Homo sapiens: one gene and its partner. The protein of the gene in region 2 purifies or fractionates together with the protein of the main gene of each other region. This does not show direct contact. Each region holds a gene or a part of one and is shown on either strand. Other genes may lie near its edges.

What was found.
Region 1: the proteins of PPP4R3B (region 2) and OSBPL8 fractionate together in Homo sapiens (co-fractionation; one large-scale study listed by BioGRID). This does not show direct contact.

What each region holds. Positions count from the first base shown.
Region 1 is NC_000012.12:76,392,029-76,395,856, forward strand, and holds part of OSBPL8 (oxysterol-binding protein-related protein 8), read right to left. Parts: intron 2,702-3,828; coding exon 2,617-2,701; intron 725-2,616; coding exon 553-724; intron 1-552. UniProt on the Homo sapiens protein: Lipid transporter involved in lipid countertransport between the endoplasmic reticulum and the plasma membrane: specifically exchanges phosphatidylserine with phosphatidylinositol 4-phosphate (PI4P), delivering phosphatidylserine to the plasma membrane in exchange for PI4P, which is degraded by the SAC1/SACM1L phosphatase in the endoplasmic reticulum.
Region 2 is NC_000002.12:55,561,937-55,565,764, forward strand, and holds part of PPP4R3B (serine/threonine-protein phosphatase 4 regulatory subunit 3B), read right to left. Parts: exon of another isoform or gene 3,767-3,828; intron 3,276-3,766; coding exon of another isoform or gene 3,258-3,275; exon of another isoform or gene 3,220-3,257; intron 3,106-3,219; coding exon 2,966-3,105; intron 2,562-2,965; coding exon 2,377-2,561; intron 1-2,376. UniProt on the Homo sapiens protein: Regulatory subunit of serine/threonine-protein phosphatase 4 (PP4). May regulate the activity of PPP4C at centrosomal microtubule organizing centers.

The DNA of each region.
Region 1 (3,828 bases), on a different chromosome or scaffold from region 2:
TTGGAGAAATGCTTTTTTAGTGTTAACTACAATAAATGCTTCAGGGAATAAAACCACAAATAGGATACAGTTCCATTCCAAACAGAAATATAAATGAATTTCACAAATACCAGGTAGAGTTAAGTCCAGTGCCATTACTAAAAACATGTTACTCTATAGAAAGACAGATTATGTCTCATAGTTATAAGGTTTCACACATGATGTAATATTTGAGACTGATCTTGAAGAATATATAGACAGGAGAAAAGCGTAAGGAGGAGTAGGCAGAAATCATTCTTAATAGAAGGGACATCATGCACAGACAAGGTGAATAATTAGCATGGCTATATTTGGGAAAGATAAAGTAAATCACGTTGGCTGGAATCAAGGAAATACATTTCTACACCTGATTATAGCAGCTAAACAAATTTTAAGCCGGTTCCTAGGCCATATAATGGGAAGATATGCAAATTTCAGTCCTAGATACACTACTAAAATTCTAGGCCTGCCAACTAATTTTGTGAACAGTATGGTCTCTGAAACATTACCAACTCAGCGGCAGTATCTACTTACTGGAAGTTATCACCACTGTGGAGATTGTTAGCACGTAGTAAGCCATAGAAAGTCACATGTGTGCTATCTGATGAAACGCTCAGGTCATGTTCCTTTCCTTCTCTGATCATTGTACGTTTAAGAAGACTAGAACATTTCAAAGCCAACTCCAAAGCATCCATCCAGCACCTTCCTAAAAGAACACAGATTCATAAGCACTATAATTTTTAAAACTATGAAACTAGCATGCATCTTAACTTACCCTGTTACCACTATTTCTTTGAGAAACATGCACTGGAAAAGTTAATCTGAACATAACATCTTGCTAGAATTTAATGAAATCTTTCCGTTTTTCAAATGCTTTTCACATACTAAGCACACCACTGATAAATGAATAGTATACAGCATGCATTAGAAACTATACCCAATCTAAAATAAACATACTTTATTTTTCAAATCTTAGAACATTAACATGCAGTATAATTTGAAGGTATCAAGCAAGGTACATAAAATACACTTGAGGATTTATGATTCTACTACAAACAAACTATCTGAAGTAACTGTTTTTGTTAATAGGAGGTCTATCCTCAAGATTAACAACCATTCTACTTGTATGTATGAAACTTTTTAAGTCAGGAAAATGCCTGCATAATGCTACCATTAACTGCCATATTAGTTAAGAGAAACATTAATAGTTTTATTTTTTAAGTAAAAATTTAAAAGTGAATTAGCAGAAAACTTTTCATTTATATTTGTTTAGGGCTCTTAATTTTCATATATATCACTTCAAGATTTGCTGGGAATATCAGCCAAGTAAAGCATCTTCATATTGAAAGCTCATACCTATATTTTAATTTAAAAAAATCATCGGCCAGGCGCGGTGGCTCACGCCCGTAATCCCAGCACTTTGGGAGGCCGAGGCAGGCGGATCACGAGGTCAGGAGATCGAGACCATCCTGGCTAACACAGTGAAACCCTGTCTCTACTGAAAATACACAAAAATTAGCCGGGTGTGGTGGCAGGCGCCTGTAGTCCCAGCCACTCGGGAGACTGAGGCAGGAGAATGGCGTGAACCCGGGAGACGGAGCTTGCAGTGAGCCGAGATCGCATCACTGCACTCCAGCCTGGGCGACAGAGTGAGACTCCGTTTCAAAAAAAAAAAAAAAAAAAAAAAAAATCTGAGGCCAGGTGCGATGGCTCACGCCTGTAACCCCAGCACTTTGGGAGGCCGAGGCAAGCGAATCATGAGGGCAAGAGTGTGAGACCATCCTGGCCAACATGGTGAAACCGTCTCTACTAAAAATACAAAAATTAGCTGGGCGTGGTGGCATGTGCCTGTAATCCCAGCTACCCGGGAGGCTGAGGCAGGAGAATCACTTATACCAGGGAGTCAGAGGTTGCAGTGAGCCGAGATCGTGCCACTGCACTCCAGGCTGGCAACAGAGCGAGACTCCATCTCAAAAACAAAAACAAAACAAAACAAAAAAAATCAGATAAAAGTAAACTTTGGAAGGTTAGAAGATTCCCTATACCAACCTTGTCTAAACTATGAAACATGAAAGCATGAAAGTGAGGACAAAATCCATTATTAATTATTAAGATTTTAAAGTTACCTTGATATCATTTAAGTTTTTCTCTCTCCATATTTGCTTCATGAATTAAGTGTTAAAGGAGGAATAAAAAAGGTTGTACTCGAATCTCTTACATAAAAAAAAACAAAACCAAAACAATGTATATGTCTCATAAATGGTAACATTTAGTAGTAAAATATAAAAAGTATTAAATATATCTTTAAGAGTACCATAAAGACCACTAACAAATAAAAAGGTGTTAATATGTCCATGGAGGATGAAGAAGAAAACTCTGAACTGCTAACTCTTCAGTAAATCACACAATGCTTCCTTTCTATCAGATTTTTGTCTATTAAGTTACTCATATATTTAGCATTCAAAACAATTTATGATTACCATGCTTCTGCTGCAAATGCCATACTAAAAATATATTTCCCCAGAATAATACAAAGTGGCATTAAAAAAACTCTTAAAAATGAAGACCAAAATCCAATCCATCAAAAACTATACTTACCATCTGACTCTGAAGTAGCTCGGATGATCAAATAACTGCTAGGTAAGGGTTGAGTAATGGATCCAACCGCTTCACCTTTTGGACCCTTAATAACAAAATAAACAAAATAAATGGTATAGAGTAATTATTATGAGATCTCATCTTTACACTATCCAATATTATCTGTAATAATCTAAATCAGGTATGGATTATAATCTAAAGGCAAATGAGCTTTAATTTCATCATTCTTGAGAATGCAAATGTTAAGTATTAAGAAAAATTTTCTAACAAATATATCTCCTTAGCAGAAAACTGAACAAATGAATTATCACTTAAATATTATCTCTACATACTGCTTACATACTAAAGAGAACCTAAAGTTTACCATATTAAACCAAATTTTAACAATGTCCATCCCATGGATACAACTAATGAGATAAGAAATACTAAATTTCTAGAAGGCTAAAGAAAGCATGTGGAAATAGAATTATAATTTAAAAAAAGAGAAATGAACTTTAACTGGGTCTAGGGAAAAATAAATCTCCACTTTATAACCAATGACATACACCTGTTTTTAAACACCAACTATATAAGCTGATTTTATTTTTCCAGAAACATGAAAGAAAAAGAAATTCTGTCGTTGTTGTTGGCTAGGGTTGTTTGTTTTAGAAGTATACAATACCAACACTAATTAGTATCACCAATGCTAAACTTAGGTAGACACGAATCTGGAAAGAAAACTAAGTACTGAATTTAAAGTATAATTTTGATACAAAAGCATAATTTTTAAGTTGTTTTCAAAGGGTTCTTTAAAGTTATTAGGTCAAAAAATGAAATAAATTTCCAAAAAGCATAACATTAGAAAGTAAAGATGTAGATTCAAAACGAAAACAGAAAAAAAATTTAATATGACTTTAACAAATACCGTAATAATCTGCATTTTCAAATAGCTTTACAATTTATGGGCCAGTTCCTAAAACCAGTATATAGTGGGACATGGAATCAGACTGCCTGGGTTTCAATCATGGCTCCATGCTAGAAAAACAGGGTTCAATCTCTTTATGTGTACAATGGGAAGAAACTGTATCCTCCTTATAGGTATGAGAATTAAATAAATGATTTCATGTAAAATATTCAAGTACCTGACACAAAGAACTCATAGCTGTTACTATTTCTTAATCACAAACACTGGCTTCTAAAATATTTAAACAATATCCTAAGTAGGTTTTGCTT
Region 2 (3,828 bases):
AAATGTAAAAAGGACATGAAATTAGGGAGGGACCGGGGTGGAATGATATGGTTTGGCTCTTGTCCCCACCCAAATCTCATTGTGAATTGTAATCCCCAGGTGTTGGAGGAGATGACTGAATCATGGAGGCAGAAAACCCCCTTGCTATTTTTGTGATAGTGAGTTCTCACGAGATCTGGTTGTTTCAAAGTGTGTGGCACCTCGGCCGGGCTTGGTGGCTCATGCCTGTAATCCCAGCACTTTGGGAGGCCAAAGTGGGTGAATCATCTGAGACCAGGAGTTCAAGACCAGCCTGGCCAACATGGTGAAACCCCATCTCTATTAAAAATATAAAAATTAGCTGGGTGTGGTGGTACATGCCTGTAATCCCAACTACTTGAGAGGCTGAGGCAGGAGAATTGCTTGAGCCCAGGAGGCAGAGGTTGCAGTGAGCCGAGATCACGCCACTGCACTCCAGCCTGGGCAATGAGAAGGAGACTCCATCTCAAAAAGCAAACAAACAAACAAAAGTGCATGGCACCTCCTCCTTCACACTCTCTGTCTCCCGCTCCACCATGGTTAAGATATGCTTGCTTTCCTTTCGCCTTCGACCATGACTGTAAGGTTCTCGAAGCCTTTCAGCCATGTTTCCTGTTAAGCCTACAGAACTGTGAGTTAATCAAACCTCTTTTCTTCATAAACTACCCAGTCTTAGGTAGTTCTTTTTAACAGTATAAAACGAACTAATACAAGTGGTAAGTCTTTATTAGCTAGAATCTTAGAAATCTCAGTATTAGAAAGGACCTTACGGATCATAACAAAATTAGCCATTCTATGCTAGAACTCTACATTGTGGTATCTAGCACATACATCTAAAATCTCATTAGCTGTCTGACTCTTCCTTTTATTGTCTCCCTGTAGCTTCCACTCACTGACTCTACACTTCTTTACTCATGGTAAAAACCTAGTAATTTCTCTCACAAGTCAATATTCCAAATGCCTAAAGACAATGATCAAGTCCGTAAGTCCTAAATATTCCAGGTTCCTTTTTCTGTTTGTGTTATGACATAGGTGTCCAATCCCTTTTAACATCTGGTTATTATTTTTATATATGATTCTTAACAGCATCTCACTCAACACTGGATACAGAACTTCAAATATGGCTGTACTGCCTCTTTTGACAATAGTCAGGGCAGTACCTGTAATGAGTAAAGGCAGAAGAATTTGTCTAGCAAAGGTACCGATTTCTTAGGATATTTTAATAAGCTTTTTGCTCCGCCACGCTGAGGCAAATAAAACTTATCAAACTAATGAGTTGAAAATGAGTACGAACAATAGTTTCAAAGAAAATGTAATAAATGAAATTAATTTTCTGAGAATTGTCTTTAGAAAATGTCACATTCAAAATCACAAACTTACATAATAAATCCAAGAAAGGCTTTTATCTTCTAAGACATAAATTTTTTCTTTTGTTTTTGAGATAAGGTCTTTCTCTGTTATTAAGCTGGAGTGCAGCGGCAGCTCATGGCTCACTGCAGCTTCGACCTCCTGGGCTCAAGTGATCCTCCAGCCTCAGCCTTCCTAGTAGCTGGGACTCCAGGTAAGTGCCACTGTGCCCATTTAATTTTTGTGTTTTTTTGTAGAGACAGGGTTTTACCATGTTACCCAGGGTGGTTTGGAACTCCTGGGCTCAAATGATCCACCTGCCTCAGTCTCCCAAAGTGCTGGGATTACAGACGTGAGCCGCCATGCCCAGCAAGGTATAAATTTTAATTAAATATTTAAATGATATACTCAGGGCAGTATTCCAAAAAATGGTAATTCCTCAGGCCACAGAAGTAAAATGGTTAGTTCTTTTGAAAGATATATTACTAGCAAGATCTTCATTTTATAAAACAAGTTAAGCACATCTGAAAGCCAGGGGAAGTTTTACTTTTTCACTTCTCTTGTTAGTATATCTTTATGTAACTTTTGTAATTTTAAAATTTCAAAGAGCAAAGTTACTTGTTTGAGCTCAGTTTATCAGCTGTAAAAGACACAGGCAAAGTACTCTAGAAGGTTTCTATGAAGCTATATGGTCTCTGTTATTACTGAGAATTTCAGTATAGAAATAAAGCCAAGACTATTCACAGAAAGAAAAGTATAAGTAGATAATTCAATTTCTAACTAGCAAATTAACAGCATTACAAAATAGCAAGTTTGAAGAGAAACATTTTAAACATGAAAAGAATTCCCAGACAGATTTGGAAAAAGTACATAATTTTAAAAGAACACAGTTTGGTATAAAATTTTTGTCTTTCTTGCTTTGTAAACTATAAACAAACCTTCACAAAGCAACAAAATAATTTCTGCACTAAATAAGAGGGTACACTGTGCAAAAATTCCGAATTTTAATACCTTTTTTAGTCTCCATAAACTTTTCATAATTATCTGGAAAATCATCTTCTGGCTTAGGTTTTTCCACTGGTGCCACAACTGCTTTTCCTTCCTCTTCTTCATCTTCATTAAACCACATTTCTTCATCCTCTTCCAAGGCTTTTGCATCTCTGCGAAATCTGTTACTACGCAATATAGATGGTACACTGTAAGAAATATATCACAAATATTGAGTAATGATTTAAAGTTCATCATCAGATTGAACTGAAGGAAAAATATGTATAACCAAGATGAACTGAAGTAATTTTAACTGACTATAATTTATATCAAAATAATCTCTGTAATGATAGAAGATGTAGCCAGAGAACACTCCAAAATATTTTAGGATGTTGTAAATTAAACTAAATATTCTTCGTAAGTTACAACATGGAGTAGTAATTCAACATATAAATGATATGGGGTAGGGGGGACGCCTTACCCTCCTATTCAACTCTATGCTATCCAGTGATGGAAAGAAAATTCCTCAGTAAATTTCACATGGAAAATCTGAACTACAAACAATTTTGGACACAGTTTTGTAGGCTATAAAAGCAGTATACTTAAACAATACCTGTTCAGTTTCTGATTTTGTCTGTCTTTTTCTTGCTCATATTTAGTCTTCAATCCTTTGAATGTCTGAACATATTCAATCGATTCAAGTGCTTTATAAAAGTTTTCAACTATATGGGCAGTAAGAGACTTGATATCTTCCTGTATAAGCACAAAATTTACATTTAAAATATAATACAATGCTTGTTAGAAGAAAAACTTTAAAATTTTGTTTTGTAGTTCTAAAGCTGATCAAAAAAGGTTTTTCAAAATCACCTTCCAAAATGTAATGTCCTGGTTTCTTTACACATGAGTCAGGACTGCACAGAAAACTTGAAAAAAAAGGAGAAGCAATTTACTGGAGTCCTTTTATAGGACTATAAAGAGCATTCGAAAAGTAAATAGATTTATTTTACATCTTCTATTTTTTGTATATATATATATATATATAGCAGTTTACAATTTAAAAAGCACTTTTACATAAAATTTCATTTGATCTTCACAACAATTCTATGAGATAGGTTTTATTATTCCCATTTTAGAGAAAAACCAAAATTGAGGCTCTAAGAGAGGCTGGATGGTTTGATCCAGAGCACACGGCTGGTTAGAGGGCAGATGTTAAAATTACATTTTCAAAATACTCACGGTGATGGATACCCCAAATACCCGGACTTGATCATTACACATTCTATGCATGTAAAAAATAAATACATGTACCAAATACATCTGTATAATATTATGTATTAATAAAAGAAAAACATATTTTTCAACAAACAGGTCTTATTTAATGACTTCCTGTTTAACTGCTATCAAAATGGGATATGGTTGTGGTGGTTTTCTTTCTGGTACATTTGTTAAGTTTTCAAATGAGCCTAACTCTGCCAC